4 linked regions of the Homo sapiens genome follow. The protein of the gene in region 1 purifies or fractionates together with the protein of each later gene. This does not show direct contact. Each region holds a gene or a part of one and is shown in the gene's direction. Other genes may lie near its edges.

Region 1 (7,369 bases):
AGATTAAGCTAGTATTTTGTTGCTACAGAGCACATCCTAAACATTTCTCTCCTAAATGTTTTGGAGAGGTTATTATATTCACATGAAATTTCTGTTATTGTCATTTTCCACTTTCTAATAAAATTCACTTGTATCTGCTTTATATTTCATGTTAATGATAACTGAAAACACAGAAGGATGAAGCAAAGTTAGATTTAGGTTGAATTATGAAGGAGGCAAATTCTGTCTTTATCATCTCTCTGGTTCTCCTGTAGCTATCTCTGCTTTCCCTAATCCCTGTATAATGCCATTGTATTGTCTTCTTTGCTAGATGGTAACCCAGTGTTCTAGCTAACATTTGCAAATTGGTGACTGGCAAGCCAGATTATGCCTGTAGGGAGTGTTTTGTTTGCCAAACACAGAGGTTTTTAAATTTTGGAACTAGAGTGCCTGAGATGGACATGTCTGTCTAGCTCACCTCATGCCCCATCTTACACCCGACTGGCTTCATTCATGTATGTTATCCGCTTGGCCGCTTTGGGCGTTTGAATTTGTTACACTTACTCTAGCCCTTTCTGTACTTTCTCCCCCAGTTTTGAATCACTTTTTGTTTTATTGTTTAAAGACAATGTTTTCTGTTGAGTGATATAGTTATTATCGGTTAATTAGATAATTGGATTTTTTTCTAATGTGTTGGCTAGCTAATCAGTTACTTCCCAGATAACATAACCTTAGTAAATTGTTACGTTTTGATTAGGGGCAGACAATGCCATTCATCGTAGAAATTTCAAACTAATGCCTGTGGAGCAAGGGTTCATGAGTCTTTTTTCATCTGAAAGACTTTCTGACCTCAAATTGTATTCTTTAGGCATACTGTTTTGTGTCTGGTGCATCAGTTCAAATTAGGGGTTAAACAAAACATGGCAGGAAACTGGGATTACAGCAGACTGGCTAAGATTTAACTGAATGTACAAGTAAACCATTTCTGTGTTACTTTTACTATATTATGATGACATTGTCTTTTTCAGTGTTGATGTTAGAGTTTAATTTGATTGTTATAACCTCCTTTTTAAAAATTAGCGCTTAAGCATTTGACTTTGTTTCAATACATCTGTTATAGCAGAAAAATCTAGATCGTCCTCATGAACCAGAAAAAGTGCCAAGAGCACCTCATGACAGGCGGCGAGAATGGCAGAAGCTGGCCCAAGGTCCAGAGCTGGCTGAAGATGATGCTAATCTCTTACATAAGCATATTGAAGTTGCTAATGGCCCAGCCTCTCATTTTGAAACAAGGTTTCTTTACTTTTGTTTTTTTTTTTAAATGATAAAACATTGGCTTTATTTGTAGTATCTGTACTTCTAAGTCTTGAGTCCTAAACTGTTGAACAGGCAGACCCTGTTATAAATATAGAGATTATTTCAAAATCCTGACCACTGTGAGCCTACTAAAGTCAGGCCTTGAGCAGGTCATTTTCATACCTGGACCTTAGTTTTGTCATCTTAGAAAGAAGTGGTTGGAGTGGCTGATCTTTAGGGTTTTAGCTTTAGTGTGACGTCTCAATAGCCTCTCGATATTTCAGGCACAGTCTGCTAGAATTTTGTAATAAAAGTTTAGGGTCTGGGGTTTTTTTGAAATACTGTTGATTTATTGCATATAAAATAGGAGTGAAGAAGGGGTTCTGTTTTGTTCCTTTTACTTTCCCCTGACTTCCTTTCTTTGCCACATTGCCCACCTCAGATATATTAGGACTTTCAAACAAAAGTATTGATCCCTTTTGTAGAAAAGATTTTTTCCTTTCTTAGTGGCCAGGGGCCCTAACTAAATAACATACTACCAGCAAACACATTAAACTGGCATCTGTCTACGAAGACACTTATTTGGGTATAGTCATACGTTTGTTTGTTTGTTTTGAGACAGAATCTTGCTCTATCGCCCAGGGTGGAGTGCAGTGGTGTGCTCTCAGCTCACTGCAACCTCTGCCTCCTGGGTTCAAGCGATTCTCCCACCTCAGCCTCCCAAGTAGCTGGGATTACAGGCACACGCCACCACGCCCAGCTAATTTTTGTATTTTTAGTAGAGATGGGGTCTCACCATGTTGGCCGGGCTGATCTTGAACTCATGACCTCAAGTGATCTGCCTGTCTCAGCCTCCCAAAGTGCTGGGATTGCATGTGTGAGCCACTGTGCCCAGCCTAGTCATATGATTTTTTAATGGAAAAGAGCTTAAGGTTTTCTTTTAAGTAATATACATATAAATGATTGGGCCATAAGTGTGCAACATCTTGACCTATTTTAGGAGAAATATACATCTGAGAGATACTATTTATCTGTATTACTGAAAGAATTGACATTAAAAAATTAATAAACTTTAGACATTTATTTCTACTACAGTTGAGTAATTAAGGTACTTATCTGACTCACTAAATACAATAATTTCTGACTTGCTGTGTGCACATCTGTTAAATCCAACTTTTTCCCAAGAATGTACTAGCAAATATTTATAAATCTTAACATGTTCGAGTTATCTAAAATTTTGCTTACATCTAAGTCACATGTTGCTATGTTACTCAGCTATTTTCTGAGTACCCTTGCACCTTTGAAAACAGCAGAAGGACAGAAACAATATAGCTAGCCACCTCTGTGCTGCTAGTATCTGGGAGGCCTTTCTCTCTGGTGCAAGACTTTTAGAAGTCATTTAAGTTTAAGAGCACACCGAGATATACTAGTAGTAGAAAACTCATTTTCCTATTCTACCTTTCTGTCATTGGCATCTTCTTGTAAAGAACTAAATAGAGGCAGATAGCTTTCCACACAATTTGCTAAAAGTTAATTATTTTCTTGTTTATTAAATTACGTACGTAATGCTTTTCATCCTGTGAGTTGAATTAGTATTCTGTTATAAAATAATAAAATAACCGATGGTCATCATAGTAGATCTCTAAATCAACAAGTAAGGGTTATATTGTGAGCAGCATTCTTTGTTTTAAAAGCAGGATTAATATAATACATTTCTGAAAGTTTCTTAAAAATAGTTAAAATATTGGCATTGAAAGGATAAACTTTAAATATTTAATATCTCATGTAGAACCCTTTCCTCCCAATAATTCAAGAATAATTCACTGATACTATATATTTCTTTTAGACCTCAGACATACGTGGATCATATGGATGGATCTTACTCACTTTCTGCCTTGCCATTTAGTCAGATGAGTGAGCTTCTGACTAGAGCTGAGGAAAGGGTATTAGTCAGACCACATGAACCACCTCCACCTCCACCAATGCATGGAGCAGGAGATGCAAAACCGATACCCACCTGTATCAGGTATGTTGGAACAAGCATATGATGTTTTATCTTAGGAGTCAGTAAGCTTTTTCTTTCAAGGACGATATAGTAAGTATTTTTGGCTTTCGGGCCTTACAGTTTTTGTCACAAGTACTCAATTCTGCCATTGTTGCATGAAAGCCACCATAGAATATACATAAACAAATGAATGTGTCTGTGTTGAAATAAACTCTATTTATAAAAACAGGGAGCAGGTCAGATTTGGTCTGTGGGACATTATTTGTAATCTTCTGGTTAGAGCTGACACACTCTCCTAGGAAAATTTAGCTAATAAGAATTTAAAGATTAAAGCCTGTTTCATTTTATTATAGTGTTGTTATCAAGCATATCATGTGCAGTGTATTAAGAAAAATTAAGGATTTTTTGGAATGTGGGTAACAGTCTAAGAAATGGGAACCAAAGATGTGATTATTAATACTAATTTGGTATTAAGGAAAATACTTAAAGAATTTCAGAGAGGATTGGCAGTTGCTTATAATAATCTTTCAGTAAAGCTATTTTGAAGTTTAATCTTGTCAGTTATTATCCAAATGATAAATTTCTAATAGAGAAATATTAGGGAAATTTTCTAATAGAGATATAGAGATCAGCTTTACAATTTTCAGTTAAAAATCCAATTTTCTATCACTGACTCATTTGGTGTTCCATCCTCAGGAAAAGAGAGAGCTGTAAATTTCTTTTTGTGGTTTGTAATTAGCTGTCATTGATTTAACTGAAATAGCATATGATGAGACTTCATAGTTTCAGTATAAATATAGCATTGTATTGGCCACATGTATTGCCACAAAATTGCATTATGATCAATGTTGAGTCATTATAGAGACTCCTGTCAGTATAGAATTGAGCATTTTATTTATTAAAGTAAGCATAAAATATCTGAGTGGATGCCAAAGTTGCATGAGAGAATGAGACTATTTAGACTATTACAAACCAAAGCACCACTCATTAATTTTTTTATTGATGTGCTTTTAGTTCTTTTTTTTTTTCTAAATACTGTTGAAGATGTTAAATTTCTATAGGAGCATGTTATTGGATCCATTTTGATATAATTACTGATAGTCATTTATAGTTTGTGTGGTTAGATTTTCTCTTTAGGCTTTTCTCTTTTAATAACTTGCTAGAATCTCTTTGTCATTTCAGTTCTGCTACAGGTTTGATAGAAAATCGCCCTCAGTCACCAGCTACAGGCAGAACACCTGTGTTTGTGAGCCCCACTCCCCCACCTCCTCCACCACCTCTTCCATCTGCCTTGTCAACTTCCTCATTAAGAGCTTCAATGACTTCAACTCCTCCCCCTCCAGTACCTCCCCCACCTCCACCTCCAGCCACTGCTTTGCAAGCTCCAGCAGTACCACCACCTCCAGCTCCTCTTCAGATTGCCCCTGGAGTTCTTCACCCAGCTCCTCCTCCAATTGCACCTCCTCTAGTACAGCCCTCTCCACCAGTAGCTAGAGCTGCCCCAGTATGTGAGACTGTACCAGTTCATCCACTCCCACAAGGTGAAGTTCAGGGGCTGCCTCCACCCCCACCACCGCCTCCTCTGCCTCCACCTGGCATTCGACCATCATCACCTGTCACAGTTACAGCTCTTGCTCATCCTCCCTCTGGGCTACATCCAACTCCATCTACTGCCCCAGGTCCCCATGTTCCATTAATGCCTCCATCTCCTCCATCACAAGTTATACCTGCTTCTGAGCCAAAGCGCCATCCATCAACCCTACCTGTAATCAGTGATGCCAGGAGTGTGCTACTGGAAGCAATACGAAAAGGTAATTTTCTCAGCTCCATGAAAAGCATTGCTATAGTAGCATTGGAAACTTTCTAAATATTTAAGACAAAAATGTGTTCCTTATCTATAAAATTTTAGGTGATCATGTTTGTGTACAAATGGCCTTTAGAAAGTAAAGCTATATCCAACTTATATTTAAAATTATTTTCCAGAAAATATATCACATTTGACCATTTTATTTTCATGCTTTGTAGGTATCCTTAAAATGTTTATTGAGTGAATGAGAAATTTAATATATCAGACTTAAATGTTATAGAACATTTAATTAAAACCCTTTATATTATGCTTAATGTGTATATTAACTCCTTTAAAAATGGTATTTTCTTCAATGTTAAGGCTGTTCATTTTGGGTATCCATGACACTTGCTCTACCAGATGCCTTTAGAGGAGTGAGTTTCCTCCCTTAGTAACAAAGGAAAGACTTCTCATATTCATTCATTTATTGTCATTATTTCCTAAGCAATGACTATAGGCCAGGCACTGAGCATATAGAATGAATAATAGTGCCTTTCCCTCAAATACAATGGATAATGAAGCCACAGAAAATATATTCAACAATGTTTAATTTATTTGACCATTGAGGTGATAGAAGAAATGTACCACCTCATTAATTTTTTAGGGGGTGGTGAGCAGGGAGGTATAGTAGACCATGATGGATAAATAAACTGTAGATACCTACTGGGATATCTGGTAAGTTTTACCAACTAATAACACAGATAACATAAAGATTTAATGCCTCTCTCAGTATGATTTCTTCACATTCTTTTCTGATCTTTTTATTTTCCTATAAGTATTTCTCATGTGTATTTGATTTTATTCCAGAAATATTAATAATATCTAGTATCTAGTATTTTGATTTAAATGAATGGTTTGGATTCACTGTATCAGGTATTCAGCTACGCAAAGTAGAAGAGCAGCGTGAACAGGAAGCTAAGCATGAACGCATTGAAAACGATGTTGCCACCATCCTGTCTCGCCGTATTGCTGTTGAATATAGTGATTCGGAAGATGATTCAGAATTTGATGAAGTAGATTGGTTGGAGTAAGAAAAATGCATTGATAAATATTACAAAACTGAATGCAAATGTCCTTTGTGGTGCTTGTTCCTTGAAAATGTTTGGTCATTCTAGTGTTTTGCTTTCTTTTCCTTATAATAAATGACCCTTTTCCTCCATAACTTTTGATTTCTAAGGAAAATATTAGCATACATTTCAAACTAAATGTTTTACAGTGGCTTATCTTTTTTTTCCCCCTGAAAAGACTAATTTGGTCAAATAAACCACTAAGTATTAAGCATGGACAGCTGTTGTTAGAGTAGCAGATTCAGTTTTTTGATATATCTTAATTGTGTACTTTGTGAATTTTAATTTAAAGAAAGCAACTGAAATTGAAATCTTGAGGGCAGCTGTGTCTACTAATGAGCCTTATTCCATTTCCTGATGTTTTAAAAGAAGAAACACTGCCTTGATTATACGAATACACTCAGAAAGTACATTTAGCTTGTAGTGTTGAATTCTCTTAAAGGAATGCTTGAATTTTTTCATTATTGTTTTATTGTTTTTATATACTTGCCTTATTTGAATGTTTAGCAGTATCCCCTTCCCACTTATATATTGTGTGATATGATTTTGCTTGCCTATAGGAGTTAAAAACTTTTCCATGTGAAATACTCTGACTTAAACATACATGTAACTTACATAACTGTTAAGAATAACAGTCTGATTTAATAAATGGTTCATTTTAAAAGTTCATCAGTGTTGCTCTTTGAATAAAATGATTTATCATAATTTATCAAATACTGTATGGTAGGCTTTAAATAGTGAATGAAAATTTGAAAAACACTTAGGCTACATAATTTCCTCTTAATTGCACAGCTTCATATTGTCTACTGTGTAAGGTAGCTTTTATGTCATTTTCCCCCTAAGTTCATAAACTCTGTATTTCTCAACTGCTTGTGGTTTTAAATTAAAACCTCAACTTGTCATCTAATTTCAGCATACCTTAATTTCAGTTTAACAGTGTTCTTGAAATTATGTTTTGCAGCCAGGCATGGTGGCTCATGCCTGTAATCCTAACACTTTGGGAGGCTGAGGCTGGTGGATCACTTGAGCCTGGGAGTTTGAGACCAGCCCAGGCAACATGGCGAGAACCCCGTCTCTACAAAAAAAATACAAAAATTAGCCGGGCGTGGTGGGGTGTGCCTTTAGTCCCAGCTACTTGGGAGGCTGGGGTGGGAGGATCACTTGAGCCTGGGGAGG
Region 2 (6,310 bases), on another chromosome or scaffold:
AGGCTGTGTCTGAGAACTCGGATGGAGCACTTGAAAGTGCCCGTGGCTCCCGCCTGCCTTTGCGGTAAGGGACAGTGCAGAACATCTCCGGCTGTGCCAGCTGTTGTAGATTCTGGTGGGTGCTGCCATGGGAGGAGGAGCACGTTGTTGCCCCCCCTCAGGATCTCCCTGACCTCTGTCTTCACCATCGTTGAACTTAACGCCTGCTTTTGACCAGGTAGCGTGGAGTGTTTCAGTGGCATTTGTCATCGAAGATATGTTAGAATCTATTGTATGCTTTTGGATCTCTCCGGAGGGTTAAGACAAAATTCTAATAAAGAATCGATAAGAGGTTATATTGATTTTTGTTGTCCTCAGTCTGTACTAAACTCAAACCAAGTTCTCATGCATTACTAGGTTGGAGAAACGTACGGTAAGGATATAACCTCCCGGGGCAAAGACAAGCCGATTGCCGTATGTAAAACTTTCAGTCCACTTCAGTTTCAAGCTTTCTCTGTTCTCTCATTTCACTTCGTTTTCCTAGGATTTTTTATTAAGCCTCAAGCTCCTTGAGTGTTTTATATTTAATTCACTCAAGGTTGGGGTTTTGCTTGATGAAATAAACTTCATTAGAGTGTGATAGTTTACCCACCGGCTTGAATTAAAGCAGTTTGTGAACTGTGATCTTCTCCTCCCAAGTGAAAGGAGGGGACAGTGAGAGGGCCCCTCTCCTGGCTGGTTGGAGATGCAGATATGGAGACTCCTCCCGGAAGCCCACCTGGCTGTGAGCCGAGCCGGAGCAGGACTAACCTTGTTGCCGGGGCCTTCTTTCTCCGCTTGGGTGTCCCGTGTGGTGGGGCTGTCTGGGCGTGGCTGTGCAGTGCTGCTGAGCTAACCCCACCGTGCTTGAGATGGTGTGCTGGGTGCCGCGGTGATTCTTGGACGAGCTTGTGCATGCGCCAGCATTCTTCAAATGCCAGTTATAAAAAGCTGTTGTGTGGGATGTTTCTTTCCCTTTCAGGTACAAGGTATCAGCTGGAGGGTTGAAAGTGTAGCTTGGGAATTGTGTGCATTTCATAAAGTAGCATAATTGCCTTTTTCCAGGAGAATATTTTAGAAATCTAGCATTTTAGAATTCTTGGGCATTTTTAAATACAGGTGAATATTTGAATTTGGTTTGACACAAAATACAGAATGGATGAAGCATGCAGATGTTTGGCGTGTGCCCCGAAGCACCCTCTACTCTGTCCTCTGCACCCACCCTTTGCGCCTCTGCGTCAGCCACAGCTGCCCCGGGAGCGAGTTCTCCTGAGGCCCTGGCTGTGCTGACTCTAGGGCAGCGTGAGGGTGGTTGTCAGCTGTGAAGGTGCCACTTACACACTAAGTCCTCCTTCCTTGTGGAGGGAAGGGCTCAAGTAGCAAATATTGGAGCCCCCGCTTGGTGCTGGGAGCTGTGACAGGCAGCTCCTGAAGAAGCAGTTTAATTGGAACCAGTGACCATCTAAAACTGTTTGTACTCTAAACCAGATTTTACAGAAATATTGGAATCATACCTTTATACTTGATTTTTTCATTTTAGATAGTTAGGCGTAAAGGAAGCCTCCTGAGGGTCTGGTCTGATCCTCCTGATCCTTGAAGAGCTTCCAGCATCATTCTCCCTTCATGCTCCCCATTTTCATAAGTAACTGGTGGCTTGACATGCTGGGTTTGGTTTGGGAGCCCTCTGACAAACTGAAAGGGTGGATCAGGAAGCGTCTGACCACACCACTGGTAGACACGCTCTGCGTCCAACAAGTCCTTCCCAGCAACATGTAGAAAGCAAAGTGCATGCTTCATTCTAAGGTTGTTGTCTAAATGTTTCCCTGTGTTTCCTTTTTGTAGGATGTGTTCTTAATTTGCTTTTCCCTTGTGAGTCCTGCATCATTTGAAAATGTCCGTGCAAAGGTAGGTGGGGATTTAAAATGTGTATGTAAGTTATAGAATGATCCTCTCAGAAATAAATACTTTAAAATATCACTTAGCCTAGGAATTTTTAGTTATTTAAATTGGTTTTAGCAATTTGCTACTTAAGTACATGATTGGGTTTTTTTTTTTCTTTTGAGACGGAGGTCTCACTCTGTTGTGTCCAGGCTGGAGTTGTAGTGGTGACATCAGAGCTCACTGTAGCCTTGAACTCCTGGGCTCAAACAGTTCTCCTGCCCCAGCCTCCTGAGTTGCTGGGACCATAAATGTGCACCACCATGCGTGGCTAATCTTAAAAGAATTTTTGTATGGCTGGTTTTGTAGACCCTGGCTTGTCTCAAACTCCTGGGTTGAAGTGATCTTTCAGCTTCAGCCTCCCAAAGTGGTGGGATTATAGCTGTGAGCCACTGCATCTGGCCCATCAGCAGTTTATTTTATTTATTTATTTTTGAGAGAGTCTTTTTTTTTGTTTTTGTTTTTGTTTTTGAGATGGAGTTTCACTCTTGTTGCCCAGGCTGGAGTGCAGTGACGCAATCTTGGCTCACTGCAACTTCCGCCTCCTGGGTTCAAGTGATTCTCATGCCTCAGCCTCCCGAGTAACTGGGATTACAGGCATGCACCACCACGCCCGGCTAATTTTGTATTTTTAGTAGAAATGTGGTTTCTCCACGTCAGTCAGGCTGGTCTCGAACTCCCGACCTCAGGTGATCCGCGCGTCTCGGCCTCCCAAAGTGCTGGGATTACAGGCGTGGGCCACCGTGCCCGGCTGAGACAGAATCTTGCACTGTCATCCAAGCTGGAGTGCAGTGGCACAATCTTGGGTCACTGCAACCTCCCCCTCCCGGTTCAAGCAATTCTCCTGCCTCAGCCTCCTTAGTAGCTGGGATTACAGGTGCCCGCCAACACACCTGGCTAATTTTTGTACTTTTAGTAGAGACGGGGTTTCACCATGTTTGCCAGGCTGGTCTCGAACCCCTGGCCTCAAGTGATCCACCCGCCGCAGACTCCCAGAGTGCTGGGATTTCAGGTGTGAGCCACTATGCCCGGCCTAATACGTGGATTTTTAAAGCTTCAGGTTCTGGTTCAGAAGTTTCCTGGGTCTCATTAAAATAATGAGGCACTCAGAATTGGTCTAATAAAAATAACGACCATTTCTTTCTACTCCAGTCTCTTTCACAAACTTCTTAGTGAAAATGACAAGTGAGGCCCTTCAGTAGGGGCATTTTCAGTGGAGATAATAGCGGCAGACCTGAGACCTTGGGCTAGGTAGTTTATTCTCATTTCTGAACAGATGATGAATTTTCTCAGATGACCCTAAGAAATTGTTTTACCAAAAACAAAGTGATCTATTTGCTTTGGGAGGAACTCCCTTCCTTTTGTTTCTCTTCCCTTCCCCCCTTCCCCTGCGGTTGTAGAGCCCGTTCTGTCCGGTCGTGGTTCTGTCCAGCCATGATCCGGGAGTCCTAGCTTGCTAATGGAACACCTGAGATGTTCCTTATGGCTCAAGGCTTGAATTGAAGGTGGGAACCACCTGAAGCCTCCGTGGGGAGGCCTTGCCTGAGGTTAGGTGTCTGGCATGAGTGCCGCCGGCTGGGTGTGATTTAGGTGAAGGACATCTGTAAAGGAGCGTGTCACAACCTCTGTTCCTTCTTCACATCTAGTGGTATCCTGAGGTGCGGCACCACTGTCCCAACACTCCCATCATCCTAGTGGGAACTAAACTTGATCTTAGGGATGATAAAGACACGATCGAGAAACTGAAGGAGAAGAAGCTGACTCCCATCACCTATCCGCAGGGTCTAGCCATGGCTAAGGAGATTGGTATGGAATCCTGTGTTTTTCCTCCTCCTTGTACCTCTTTTATTGTAGTGACAGAGACTGGAGTCCAGTCTGGGAAAGGAGGGTGTGTGTCTCCCACTCAGGGCCTGGTGTACTCTTGGGGAACCAGCTGGCAAGGCCCTGTGGGTCTTAACGTCAGCGTTGGAAGGTGGAAGCAGGGCTGGGAGCCGGCAGAAGGCGCCCGGGCCCCAGGAGCTGCCTCCCGCTGGTGGTGTGATCAGAAGAGAGTGGGGTCGAGTGTACATTGCCGTGTGGTCGTGTTTCCTGTAGGTGCTGTAAAATACCTGGAGTGCTCGGCGCTCACACAGCGAGGCCTCAAGACAGTGTTTGACGAAGCGATCCGAGCAGTCCTCTGCCCGCCTCCCGTGAAGAAGAGGAAGAGAAAATGCCTGCTGTTGTAAATGTCTCAGCCCCTCGTTCTTGGTCCTGTCCCTTGGAACCTTTGTACGCTTTGCTCAAAAAAAAACAAAAAAAAAAAACAAAAAAAAAAAACAACGGTGGAGCCTTCGCACTCAATGCCAACTTTTTGTTACAGATTAATTTTTCCATAAAACCATTTTTTGAACCAATCAGTAATTTTAAGGTTTTGTTTGTTCTAAATGTAAGAGTTCAGACTCACATTCTATTAAAATTTAGCCCTAAAATGACAAGCCTTCTTAAAGCCTTATTTTTCAAAAGCGCCCCCCCCATTCTTGTTCAGATTAAGAGTTGCCAAAATACCTTCTGAACTACACTGCATTGTTGTGCCGAGAACACCGAGCACTGAACTTTGCAAAGACCTTCGTCTTTGAGAAGACGGTAGCTTCTGCAGTTAGGAGGTGCAGACACTTGCTCTCCTATGTAGTTCTCAGATGCGTAAAGCAGAACAGCCTCCCGAATGAAGCGTTGCCATTGAACTCACCAGTGAGTTAGCAGCACGTGTTCCCGACATAACATTGTACTGTAATGGAGTGAGCGTAGCAGCTCAGCTCTTTGGATCAGTCTTTGTGATTTCATAGCGAGTTTTCTGACCAGCTTTTGCGGAGATTTTGAACAGAACTGCTATTTCCTCTAATGAAGAATTCTGTTTAGCTGTGGGTGTGCCGGGTGGGGTGTGTGTGATCAAAGGACAAAGACAGTATTTTGACAAAATACGAAGTGGAGATTTACACTACATTGTACAAGGAATGAAAGTGTCACGGGTAAAAACTCTAAAAGGTTAATTTCTGTCAAATGCAGTAGATGATGAAAGAAAGGTTGGTATTATCAGGAAATGTTTTCTTAAGCTTTTCCTTTCTCTTACACCTGCCATGCCTCCCCAAATTGGGCATTTAATTCATCTTTAAACTGGTTGTTCTGTTAGTCGCTAACTTAGTAAGTGCTTTTCTTATAGAACCCCTTCTGACTGAGCAATATGCCTCCTTGTATTATAAAATCTTTCTGATAATGCATTAGAAGGTTTTTTTGTCGATTAGTAAAAGTGCTTTCCATGTTACTTTATTCAGAGCTAATAAGTGCTTTCCTTAGTTTTCTAGTAACTAGGTGTAAAAATCATGTGTTGCAGCTTTATAGTTTTTAAAATATTTTAGATAATTCTTAAACTATGAACCTTCTTAACATCACTGTCTTGCCAGATTACCGACACTGTCACTTGACCAATACTGACCCTCTTTACCTCGCCCACGCGGACACACGCCTCCTGTAGTCGCTTTGCCTATTGATGTTCCTTTGGGTCTGTGAGGTTCTGTAAACTGTGCTAGTGCTGACGATGTTCTGTACAACTTAACTCACTGGCGAGAATACAGCGTGGGACCCTTCAGCCACTACAACAGAATTTTTTAAATTGACAGTTGCAGAATTGTGGAGTGTTTTTACATTGATCTTTTGCTAATGCAATTAGCATTATGTTTTGCATGTATGACTTAATAAATCCTTGAATCATACGACTGGTAATACTGGTGTTTTTGAGACTTGATGAACAAGTTCCTGGTGTGTGTTTGTTTGCCTTGCTTTAAAGTCCTGGGTTGTTGGAGACAGTCATTTTCAATGCGTGTCTCCACACAGGAGGGACAGGGAGTGCCACCTCCAGGGGAGAACTGGGTGAGCCCAAATACGGCAGGAGTGGAGGTGACATTCATGTTTGGACCTGTCGAACAGTGGCGAAGCTCTGAGGGAGAAGCGCCTATCGGGGTGTGTGTGCACATCCTGGCCCAGAGCTAGGGGCTGAAGATGGAGATGTTGGGACCCTAGACTGGCCCTGGAAGAGTAGAGGTTGGTGAACCACATGCCCTTAAGATCCTTTCCAGAGGCTGAGTGCGTGGCTTACGCCTCTAAGCCCGACGCTTTGGGAGGCTGACACAGGAGGAGCGCTTAAGCCCAGGAGTTCTAGACCAGCCTGGACAAGAAAGAGACCTACCCAAAAAAAAAATGCAAGAGCCTGAACTTGTACTACATAAAGGTTCATGTTAGAATTCGTTTTCTTAATATTCCTTTTTATTGCTTTGAAGATTGTTTTTGAGTTTTTGTTTTTTTTTTAAGATGGAGTTTTGCT
Region 3 (3,010 bases), on another chromosome or scaffold:
TTGAATTCCAACTTTGCCTCTTTCCCTACCCTTCCTAGCTACATTGTAAAGTGTGGGGCAGTGACACCTACATTATAGTGTCTGAACATGTGTAGGGTGTCCAGCCCAGTGCTGCGGGCACTGTCAGTAAATCAAAGCGGTAAGAAGGTTGGGTGAGGGTATGCTTTGTTGGGCTCCTAGTGCCAGAACCAAGCCAGGAGGCCCCTTGCTAAGTGTCTCTTATTTTTCTCCCCCAGACTCACAGAAAGAGCTGGCCTGACCACCAGGCACCTCACTGGCACTGCTGACCCATCCCAGAAACACAATCTCAGGGACCCGAGCAGCTCCAAGGACGAGAGGATACAGCAGACACAACCTAATAGAGAGGGCGCCTGCAGCCTTAACCTCCACGGCCTTCGATACTTATGCAAGCCTGGTGTTGCTCCTGTCCTCAGAGTCATCCTGCGCTCATGCCTTTTCCCGAATGGGTTCACCTCTGGCAGTTGCCGCTTCAGTCTTGGCCTTAGCCTCATCTTGAAGTGGGTAGCTGGCGGGAGAGGGTGGCTGCGCCCCCTGCTGGCCCTGAGGCTGCAGAGTTGGGAGCAGGACACCTCACCTGAGTTTCATTTTTTTTCATGTCCAAACCATGCACATACTATAGTCCAGAATCAAAGCACTTTTGAAAAGTGGCTGCATGGCCATCCTCCAGGGCCCAGGAAGTTGCATTCCAAGGGCCTGTTTACATGGCAGCAGAATCCATCCCCGGCAGTCAGCCCATAGCTTGGGACCAGTCTGTGCCCTCCTGCCCAGTCCAGTTTACTCCTCTTGGTTCCTGAAGGTGGCCAAGTCATTGTGTTCCCACAGGCTTCTCTAGGCTGGGGGCAGGTGTGGGGCTGTGGAATTCCAAAGCACAAAAGGTGCAGAGGGGATTGGCCTTCCTGTGCCTCAACTCACCAACCACCCTCCTGCCTTCCAGTTCTGCCAGGTGCTCCATGCTGGGGACAAGTAGGAGACTGCCAGGGCCCAAAGAAATGGGTGAGCAGTAGAGTCATCTCGGGGCACTTGGCAGTGTCAAGCACCTGCCCCTTGCCTCCTTGACCACACTGGGGTGGGTGGGCCCCCAGCACTTCAGAGGCAGGAGCCTTTGGGCTGAGCAAGCACTGAGGAGGTGGATGGAAGGGAGCATCTGGAGGGGGGGAGCTTCCTTGAGCAGTGGGCCCAGGCCTGGCCCTCCACACTTCATTCTCTGACCTTTCTCTCTCCTCATTTCGGTGCATGTCCTTTCTGCAGCTGCCTTTCAGCACAGGTGGTTCCACTGGGGGCAGCTAACGCTGAGTGACAAGGATGGGAAGCCACAGGTGCATTTTACTCAAGTCTTCTCTAGTCAATGAGGGGCACCCAGTGCTTCTAGGGCAGGCTGGGTGGTGGTCCCCTAGGTATCAGCCTCTCTTACTGTACTCTCCGGGAATGTTAACCTTTCTATTTTCAGCCTGTGCCACCTGTCTAGGCAAGCTGGCTTCCCCATTGGCCCCTGTGGGTCCACAGCAGCGTGGCTGCCCCCCAGGGCCACCGCTTCTTTCTTGATCCTCTTTCCTTAACAGTGACTTGGGCTTGAGTCTGGCAAGGAACCTTGCTTTTAGCTTCACCACCAAGGAGAGAGGTTGACATGACCTCCCCGCCCCCTCACCAAGGCTGGGAACAGAGGGGATGTGGTGAGAGCCAGGTTCCTCTGGCCCTCTCCAGGGTGTTTTCCACTAGTCACTACTGTCTTCTCCTTGTAGCTAATCAATCAATATTCTTCCCTTGCCTGTGGGCAGTGGAGAGTGCTGCTGGGTGTACGCTGCACCTGCCCACTGAGTTGGGGAAAGAGGATAATCAGTGAGCACTGTTCTGCTCAGAGCTCCTGATCTACCCCACCCCCTAGGATCCAGGACTGGGTCAAAGCTGCATGAAACCAGGCCCTGGCAGCAACCTGGGAATGGCTGGAGGTGGGAGAGAACCTGACTTCTCTTTCCCTCTCCCTCCTCCAACATTACTGGAACTCTATCCTGTTAGGATCTTCTGAGCTTGTTTCCCTGCTGGGTGGGACAGAGGACAAAGGAGAAGGGAGGGTCTAGAAGAGGCAGCCCTTCTTTGTCCTCTGGGGTAAATGAGCTTGACCTAGAGTAAATGGAGAGACCAAAAGCCTCTGATTTTTAATTTCCATAAAATGTTAGAAGTATATATATACATATATATATTTCTTTAAATTTTTGAGTCTTTGATATGTCTAAAAATCCATTCCCTCTGCCCTGAAGCCTGAGTGAGACACATGAAGAAAACTGTGTTTCATTTAAAGATGTTAATTAAATGATTGAAACTTGGCTGTGGCTACTGCTTCTTAATGTGGGGGGGACAGGGCAGTGGTCTGGGCCCACATTTAGAAGGGAAAATGTTTTGCCTGCTGCACACATTGGACCCAAGTATGGGCCTCTTCTGCCTAGTACTGCCAAAGGGACTGTTAAGGTGTCTTGTCCATCTTCTACCCCCCACCCCCCATTACAGGGTAAAGGAACCCCAGACTAGGTGAGGGGCCAGCAGCTGCCTCACACTTGTGTTCTCTCCTGAGATGGTCCAGCTCACATCCAGACACCCTTGTTCAGACATTTTATTTGAATTTATGACAGTGATGGGGATTTGACTGAGATGCCTTATGGAGAAGTACCCCACCCTCTATGAAGACAGAATCACTCTCTGCCATTCATTCTGCCTGATGCTAACAACACGCAGCTGATTTAGGGAGTGTCCCAGCCTAGCTGGATCAAGGGAAATTCCAGGAGCCCTGGGGCAGGCCCTGGCCCCCAGTGCCAAGCCTCAGAGTAAGCAGACATTGGGAAAGTTGCCAACCACTTGGTAGACCACTAGGTTCTCTGTTTTCCCTTCCCTTTCCTTTTCAAATCCCACAGTTTCCTGTTGGGGAGAAGCTGTAATTAGCCTAGTCCAGGTACCAGATCCCAGCTAGGGGCGCAGCTGCTTGGATAACTCCAAGAAA
Region 4 (7,315 bases), on another chromosome or scaffold:
TTGAACATTTCCTTTACCTCTAAAAGTTCACTTGCATCCCTTTGGTGTCACCCCACCACTACTCCAGCCTTTGGCAAAGTCTGATCTGATTTCTATCACTGTAATTTTGCCTTTTCTAAAATTTCTTAGAAGAGGAATCATACAGTAGGTTATTTTTTTATTTTATTTTTTAGTTTTATTTTTTTCTGAGACAGAGTTTTGCTCTCGTTTCCCAGGCTGGAGTGCAACGGCTCAATCTTGGCTCACCACAACCTCCACCTTGTGTGTTCAAGCAATTCTCCTGCCTCAGCCTCCCAAGTAGCTGGGACTACAGGTGCGTGCCACCACACCCAGCTAATTTTGTGTTTTTAGTAGAGACAGGGTTTCTCCATGTTGGTCAGGCTGGTCATGAACTCCCAACCTCAGGTGATCTGCCCGCCTCAGCCTCCCGAAGTGCTGGGATTACAGGTGTGAGCCACCGTGCCGTTTTTTTTTGTTTGTTTGCTTTCTTTTTTTGAGATAAGAATCTCCCTCTGTCCCCCAGGCTGGACTGCAGTGGCATGATCTCAGCTCACTGCAACCTCTGCCTCTTGGGTTCAAGCAATTCTCCTGCCTCAGCTGCCTAAGTACCACGCCCGGCTAATTTTTGTATTTTATTTTTAGTAGAGATAGGGTTTCCCCGTGTTGGCCAGGCTGGTGTCGAACTTCTGGCCTCAAGTGGTCGGCCCACATTGACCTCCCAAAGTGCTGGGATTACAGATATGAGCCACTGTGCCCAGTCCGTGCCTAGCTACTTGAAAAAAACATACATGTTGTAGAGAGAGCCTGTTGCTCAGACTAGTCTCAAACTCGTAGGCTCAAGTGATCCTCCTGGTTCAGCCTCCCAAAATGCTGGGATTACAGGTGTGAGCCACTGTGCCCAGCCTTTTGGCTTGTTTTAAAAAACTGGTTTGTCATCTTATTACTGAACTGTAAGAGTTGTTTATATATTAGGGTACAACTCCTTTATCAAGATATTTGTTTTGCAGATATTTTCTCCCAGGTTTTGGTTTTCCTCGTCTTCCTTCTTTCTTTTTCTCCTCCTCCTCCTCCCCCCGCTCCCTCTCTCCCTCCTCCTTTTTCTTTTCTCCTCCTCCTCCTTCTTCTCCCTTCTCCTCCTTCTCCTTTTTCTTCCTCCTCCTCCTCCTCCCCCTCCTCTTCCACCCCTTTCTCCTCTCCTTCCTCCTACTCCTGTTCCTCCTGCTCCTGTTCCTCCTCACCTTTAAGGCATGAGGGATAAGTTCTTTTAGTGAACTTTACATGAGCCACAAATATTTGTACAAGTTTGCACTGTCCACTGGATTTTGGAAAGATCACTGTATTAGTCCATTCTAGCACTGCTATAAAGAACTATCTGAGACTGGGTAATTCATAAAGAAAAGAGGTTTAATTGGTTCCTGGCTCTGAAGGCTGTACCAGAAGCATAGCTGCTTCTGCTTCTGGGAGGCTTCAGGAAGCTTCCAAAATGGCAGGAAGGCAAAGGGGAAGAGAAATGTCTCATGTGGCAGGAGGGGAGCAGGAGGCAGGCGGGGAGGTGTCATATACATTTATTTCATTTTTTAGACATGGTTTCCTTCTGTCACCCAGGCTAGAGTGCAGTGCTGTGATCTTGGCTCACTGCAATCTGTGCCTTCCAGGCTCAAGCAATCCTCCTACTTCAGCCTCCCAAGTAGCTGAGTCTACAGGTGCTCACTACCACACCTGGCTAATTTTTCGTGTTTTTTGTAGAGACGGGTTTTTGCCATGTTGCTCGGGGTGGTCTGGAACTCAAGCGGGAGTAGTTCGTCATGTTGGTCTCCCATTTTGGGAGTCAAGTGGATTCTCCCACCTTGGTCTCCCAAAGTGCTGGGATTACAGGCACAAGCCACTGCACTGGGCTGTCATACACTTTTAAATGACCAGATCTCAGGAGAACTCACTCGAGATCATAAGGAGAGTTCCAACAGGATGCTGCATAACCATTCGTGAGAAATCTGCTCCATGATCCACTCCCGCTTCCCCCAGGTCCCAACTCCAACATTAGGGATTACAATTCAACATGAGATTTGGCAGGGATGCAGATCCAAACCATATCAATCAGTAACCTAGGAAACTTGACGGCATTTTCAGTGCCCTTAGCTAAACTCCTTAACCTATCTAAGCTTAAATTTCCTTATTTGATAAGGAAGGAAAATAATATTTATATTATCTGTCTCTCAGAGTTGTGAGAAGAAATCTGACAGTACTTTTTATTTGTATTTATCATCATCATCATTATTATTCATTCATTGCTCAACTGCATGGACAGTACGTTGAAAATAGTAAATTAGTATCACCTCCCTAATCACTTCCCCAATGTTGTTGAAATGTGTCAATATTTGAATATATACAAACTGAGTGATTTCTACAGTTAAACCTCAAGTAGAGACCAAGATCAATAATACATTAAATTTTAATAACTTGGATTAAGTCGTGTTTGGGTTAACGATAAATATCAAAAGATAACTATTACACCTATTCCAGATAATAAATGTATTACTTTCCATAATATCTGGAATAGGTATAATAGTTATCTTTTGATAGATTCCTTGATGGAGAATCTGGTGGCAAGGGGAAGTTAACGTTTTTAGTAGGAAACTGAGTTTTTCCTTTCAGAGGTCGAAGAGGGAAACTGGTTCCCTGGGGCCCTGAATAAGGCCCCAGTAAAGGCAATATTCAATAAATACCTGGTGCTGGCAATTTTTAATTTGGTTGAGTGATGTTTTTACTCCTAGTTATTTTGATTCTAAATGACTTTATGGAGATACATGAACATATGTCCAAAGTCTTTGGACAACACTTTTCATAGCTGATTATATCCGAAGCATTTAATGTTCCTGTTGAAGTGAAGAGCTTGAAATATAGGGCCTTTTGAGACTATTCCAAAGCAGGTGATAAAAACAAAACAAAACAAAAATCCAGGAGCAAAAAACGAAGGATCAGGGTGGGTGGCTCATGATTGTAATCCTAGCAGTTTGGGAGGTTGAGGCAGAAGGATTGCTTGAGGCCAGGGGTTCGAGACGAGCGAGGGCAACATAATTTGATCCCTGTCGCTATAAAAAATTAAAAAGCTCAGCCAGGTGTAGTGACCGACGCTTGTAGTCCCAGTTACTCTGGAGGCTGAGGCAGGAGGATCGCTTGACTTTAGGAGGTCTAGGCTGCAGAGACCCATGATTGTGCCCCTGTACTCCAGGCTGGGTAACAGTGAGATCCTGTCTCAAACAAGCAAACAACTCCCACCCCTAAAAAAACGTGCACATGACCTTAAAAGTGTAGGAAGATTACATGATAAGGAGAGTCAGAGAAAAGAGAAATTAGGACAGGAAAGCACTACAAGCTATGTATGTTTATTTTATAATTGAGTCTTTAAGGGTACGGAGTATTCGTACTCAACTTGTACCCCCAGTGTCTAGTACGCTGCTTGGTAAACAGCTGGCAATCAAGAAATGTTTGCTAAATTTTAAATGAATTGATGGGGGCGGAACTTCAGAAAGTAAAGCCTGACTCGCTTTATTTCTAAGAAGGCAGAGGAAGTAAAAATCTAGTTTTCCGTACTCTGTCCCCTTTTTAATCCTTCTCTGAATGGGTGTCCTTGATTCACTGACATTTCCTAATTAACCAAGTTCTGCCAAGTTTCACATGAAACTTGGGGAACCGATTTCATTCCCCCAGTATCACCCTGTGGCGCCACCTTCCGGAGCTGTGAGGAAACTCCGGACTTCCCCCCAACACCGCCCCCTCCCTCCACCCTCGGTCTCCGCTTTCTGCGCTCTGCCGCGTTGGTTTTCGGAGGTGTCTGGGCGCATGCGCTTTGGACGGGCCGCCTAGCCTAGGAGAGACTACAATTCCCAGAAGACAGTGCGAAAGAAAAAAAAAATCCCGCGGTCCGTGGGGGTGGGAGAAATAAACGCTCGCGAGAGAACGAGGTTCAGGCGGCTGCACGAAGGGGGTGGAGGGGGGCTGGAGAGAGTGAGGAGGAAGGGGAGGAGGTGCCGTCCCACAATACCAGGCGGGAGGGCGGGTAGGCGGTTTGTATCCGGGCTGTGAGGTGCTCGGAGCCTCGGCGGACCTTGCTGCCTCTGTCTCTTTAACGCGAGAGGAAGCGATGCAGAGGGGTGGAAAATGGCAGAGCTGCAGATGTTACTAGAGGAGGAGATCCCGTCTGGCAAGAGGGCGCTGATCGAGAGTTACCAGAACCTGACTCGGGTGGCAGACTACTGTGAAAACAACTACATACAGGTGAGGCGCTCTGGCGGCCGGCGGGCGCTGGCCGGGTCGAGGACCCGCCGGAGTGACCAGCCCACTGGGCGGGGTGGGGAACTGCCCTGACCTCAGCGGCTGCCACCAACCCGAGCCCCTACCGCAGCCCCAACCCCAGCCCCAACCGGGGACAGAGCGAGTGGCCGGGCTGAGGGAGTCGGGCTGCGATACAGGAAGTGGCTGTGGTGGTGGAAACCGATAGAAGGGGAGAGAGAAAATGGGCGAGGGAGCCGGGAGCCCGCCGCTGCCGCAGCCCGGCGCCCCCCTCGCGTCCGCTTCCCCCAGGGCCCGGCCACCGGGGTCGCGCGCCCCCCAGGTAGCCTCCAGTCCGCAGGGCTGGAGTCCCGGAATACCCCCGAGCTGCCGCCGCGCCGCCTCTCTGCGCCGGGAGAGGAGGTCCAGGACGGGAGAGGGGAGAGGAGAGGGCAGGGACGAGGCTGAAGCCGCAGAAGGGAGAGGACCAGCGGGGTGTGTGTTGTGTGTCGGCGGAGGGTGGGGTGGGGGCGATTATGTCAGTTTCAGCCCCCAGAGGGTGTGTCTTTTATTTATTTATTTATTTAAAAAAAATTTGTCATGAGTCACATTACACCGACCTCCCGGAGGAGAGGAGGAAGCGGGTGTGGGGAGTGAGGGAGGGCGTTTGAGAGAAGTTCATCTTAAAATTCCTTTAATTGAAGGTTTGTAAATCTGTCTGCTTGTCCATTTTCAAGTCGGGTTTTTTTTATTTTTTTCCCCCTCTCATCGTTTTCACTTCCGCCCCACCATAATGTATTCTAAGAGGTTGTTAGGGCTGCTATCATTAATTATCAAACACGAATTGTTCTTAACTCCTTGGAAAAACGGCTTACCCTCCCTTCTCCCAAAAGTTCTTGAGCTGTAGGCTTCATAAGTAACTTAAAATAGACTGGTGTCATCGCCGGTTGCTTATTTTCTGAGGTTTCTCTCTTAACAAGCTAAGTAAATGTATAGTATGTGAATCCAAATACAGAAACGAACAGAGGTAGCCTCTGAACTACAACGTAAAAATATCTGTTATTGTAAATTAGAAAACTCTTGGGACTTTGTGACAGATGCTTGTTTGTTCGTTTCTCTTTGGATGATTGGAAGTGAATTGTGTGTGGTAGTTTGTTTTGAAGATCTTTAACTGTGTAAACCAACAGTTTGCGCTAGAAACAAAGTAGCACAGTCCTTTGTATAAATATAAAGGCACCAGGAATGCTCTTGCTTTTGGTAAGGCAAGGCCAAAACGTGCTTTGAAAGGTTAGGGTTATTGCAATTCAGAACTAAATTGTTTATAGAAATGTCTCCCATGTGATTATAATTTTTAAGAACCGATGTTTCTGTGTTGGCAAATGCTTCCCCTCTTTATTTTTAGAGGGAGATGCTGTTTTCAGAATGTTTTGAATATTTCTCAGTTTTCATGTTAGTAACATTGTATCTTCAGTAGCACTACTCGGAATTTATCTTCACAATTTTTTTTTCAAGCTTTCACTTTAGGAATTCTCCTGATAAGTGAACTTGTTGAATGCCTGCCACATCTACTGTATCACTTTGTGCAAACTTTATATTTAGCCCTTCGAAAAACTTTTAAAAATCTAGTAGGGATGTGGATATGGTTTGCAAATATAAAAGTGATCTCGTAGTTTATCGATATTAAAAATAGGCAACTTTTATTCAACTTAACATGAAAAGCCTTGAAATTGAGGAGAACCTTAATTTGCTGAAAGTTTTAAAGATTTTTGAAAGCCAAAAGGAGAGCACAGTAAGTTTAATTTCTCGCTTTCCAGAAAAGTTATGTGTTCTCTGTAGAAGTCAGTAGATAAGTGCTTCATACAGGGGTGGCTCCTTTTTGTTTTGCATGTTGGGAAATCTGACAAGTATATAGTGTGGTAACTATGTGTTGGCAACTGTTAGTAACTGTAAACGTGTTTTAACCTGTCTGTGTACTATTACTTTTTCAGGTAGTTGTATGTTGTAATGCTTTTTTTTTACCCCTCTCTGACCCCTTTCCTTTACTCCTCTTGCTACAATCATGTAACTTTGAAGCACTTTAAAACTTCATTGCTAATATCTCTAATTAAGTCATGTTATTTTTCATACAGTCTCTCACTTTATAAAATGTTAGTGCCATGGTGCACGAATAGCCACAGTCAGTGGCCCCGTTTTTTTTTTTTTTTTTTTTTTTTTTCTTTTTTTGTGGGGGCGGGGTGGGGTATAATCCTAAATCTGACACCAGTGAGGTGTTTTGTTCATATTGGAAAAAAAAAAAAAGAATTCACGCAAAGCAATGATTATCTAAATACCTTAGTAGCCTTTATACGTTGGGCTGCATGATCCAGGCCACTAGTTGCCTCCCTAAGGGACTCAGACAGGGTCAGGCTCAGAAAGTGATGTGGAAGTTGATGTGGTAGGTGGTGCTGCTGACTTTGGTGCTAAGAATGGGGAATGAATAATATTAGAAATATCCATTAGGGTGTCTGTTGAGGTCTTTCTGTATCCTTCCTGTGACCTGATTGGGTTATTTATAACTAATACTCTTCCTAAATATATATCTCTTCTCAGTGAAAGTATGCAGTTCACGTGTGCTTTGAGAATTTTTAAATAAGGTGAGCTAAGTTATTGCTTGGGTGATTTTTGTTCTGAGATTCACTTTTCATTTCGTTTTTCTACAGTTTGAAAGTGCAGTCCAGTTTAGCTAAGGTGTGTAGCTGAGAAACTCTTTTGGCTGTGGTGCATTTAAGTTCTTGCGGCAGTTTATTAGTTCTTTGGTTCTGTTGACTTTTAACTAGTAGGTTGTATTATTAATAGCAAAACATCTGAAAAGATTCTACTACATTAAAAAGGACAGTTTTTTTCTTTCTTTTTTTTTTTTTTTTTGAGACAGACTTGCTCTGTCACCCAGGCTGGAGTGCAGTGGTGTGTGAACACCATTCACTGCAGCCTTGACCTCCTGGGCTCAAGCAGTCCTCCCACCTCAGCCTCCCATGTAGCTGAGACCACAGGTATATGCAAGGACAGG

What was found.
Region 2: the proteins of WASF1 (region 1) and RAC1 purify together in Homo sapiens (affinity purification with western blotting; 3 studies listed by BioGRID and IntAct, with this or other methods). This does not show direct contact.
Region 3: the proteins of WASF1 (region 1) and NHSL3 purify together in Homo sapiens (affinity purification with mass spectrometry; 3 studies listed by BioGRID and IntAct, with this or other methods). This does not show direct contact.
Region 4: the proteins of WASF1 (region 1) and ABI1 purify together in Homo sapiens (affinity purification with mass spectrometry; 6 studies listed by BioGRID and IntAct, with this or other methods). This does not show direct contact.

The regions. Positions count from the first base shown.
Region 1 is NC_000006.12:110,099,310-110,106,678, reverse strand, and holds the end of WASF1 (actin-binding protein WASF1), read left to right. Parts: intron 1-1,099; coding exon 1,100-1,272; intron 1,273-3,121; coding exon 3,122-3,301; intron 3,302-4,462; coding exon 4,463-5,091; intron 5,092-5,999; coding exon 6,000-6,157; 3' UTR 6,158-6,860; downstream 6,861-7,369.
Region 2 is NC_000007.14:6,398,266-6,404,575, forward strand, and holds the end of RAC1 (ras-related C3 botulinum toxin substrate 1), read left to right. Parts: intron 1-396; coding exon of another isoform or gene 397-453; intron 454-1,860; coding exon 1,861-1,923; intron 1,924-3,602; coding exon 3,603-3,762; intron 3,763-4,050; coding exon 4,051-4,181; 3' UTR 4,182-5,702; downstream 5,703-6,310. UniProt on the Homo sapiens protein: Plasma membrane-associated small GTPase which cycles between active GTP-bound and inactive GDP-bound states.
Region 3 is NC_000001.11:32,772,629-32,775,638, forward strand, and holds the end of NHSL3 (NHS-like protein 3), read left to right. Parts: intron 1-236; coding exon 237-259; 3' UTR 260-2,342; downstream 2,343-3,010. UniProt on the Homo sapiens protein: Able to directly activate the TNF-NFkappaB signaling pathway.
Region 4 is NC_000010.11:26,857,707-26,865,021, reverse strand, and holds the start of ABI1 (abl interactor 1), read left to right. Parts: upstream 1-4,063; 5' UTR 4,064-4,158; coding exon 4,159-4,275; intron 4,276-7,315. UniProt on the Homo sapiens protein: May act in negative regulation of cell growth and transformation by interacting with nonreceptor tyrosine kinases ABL1 and/or ABL2. May play a role in regulation of EGF-induced Erk pathway activation. Involved in cytoskeletal reorganization and EGFR signaling.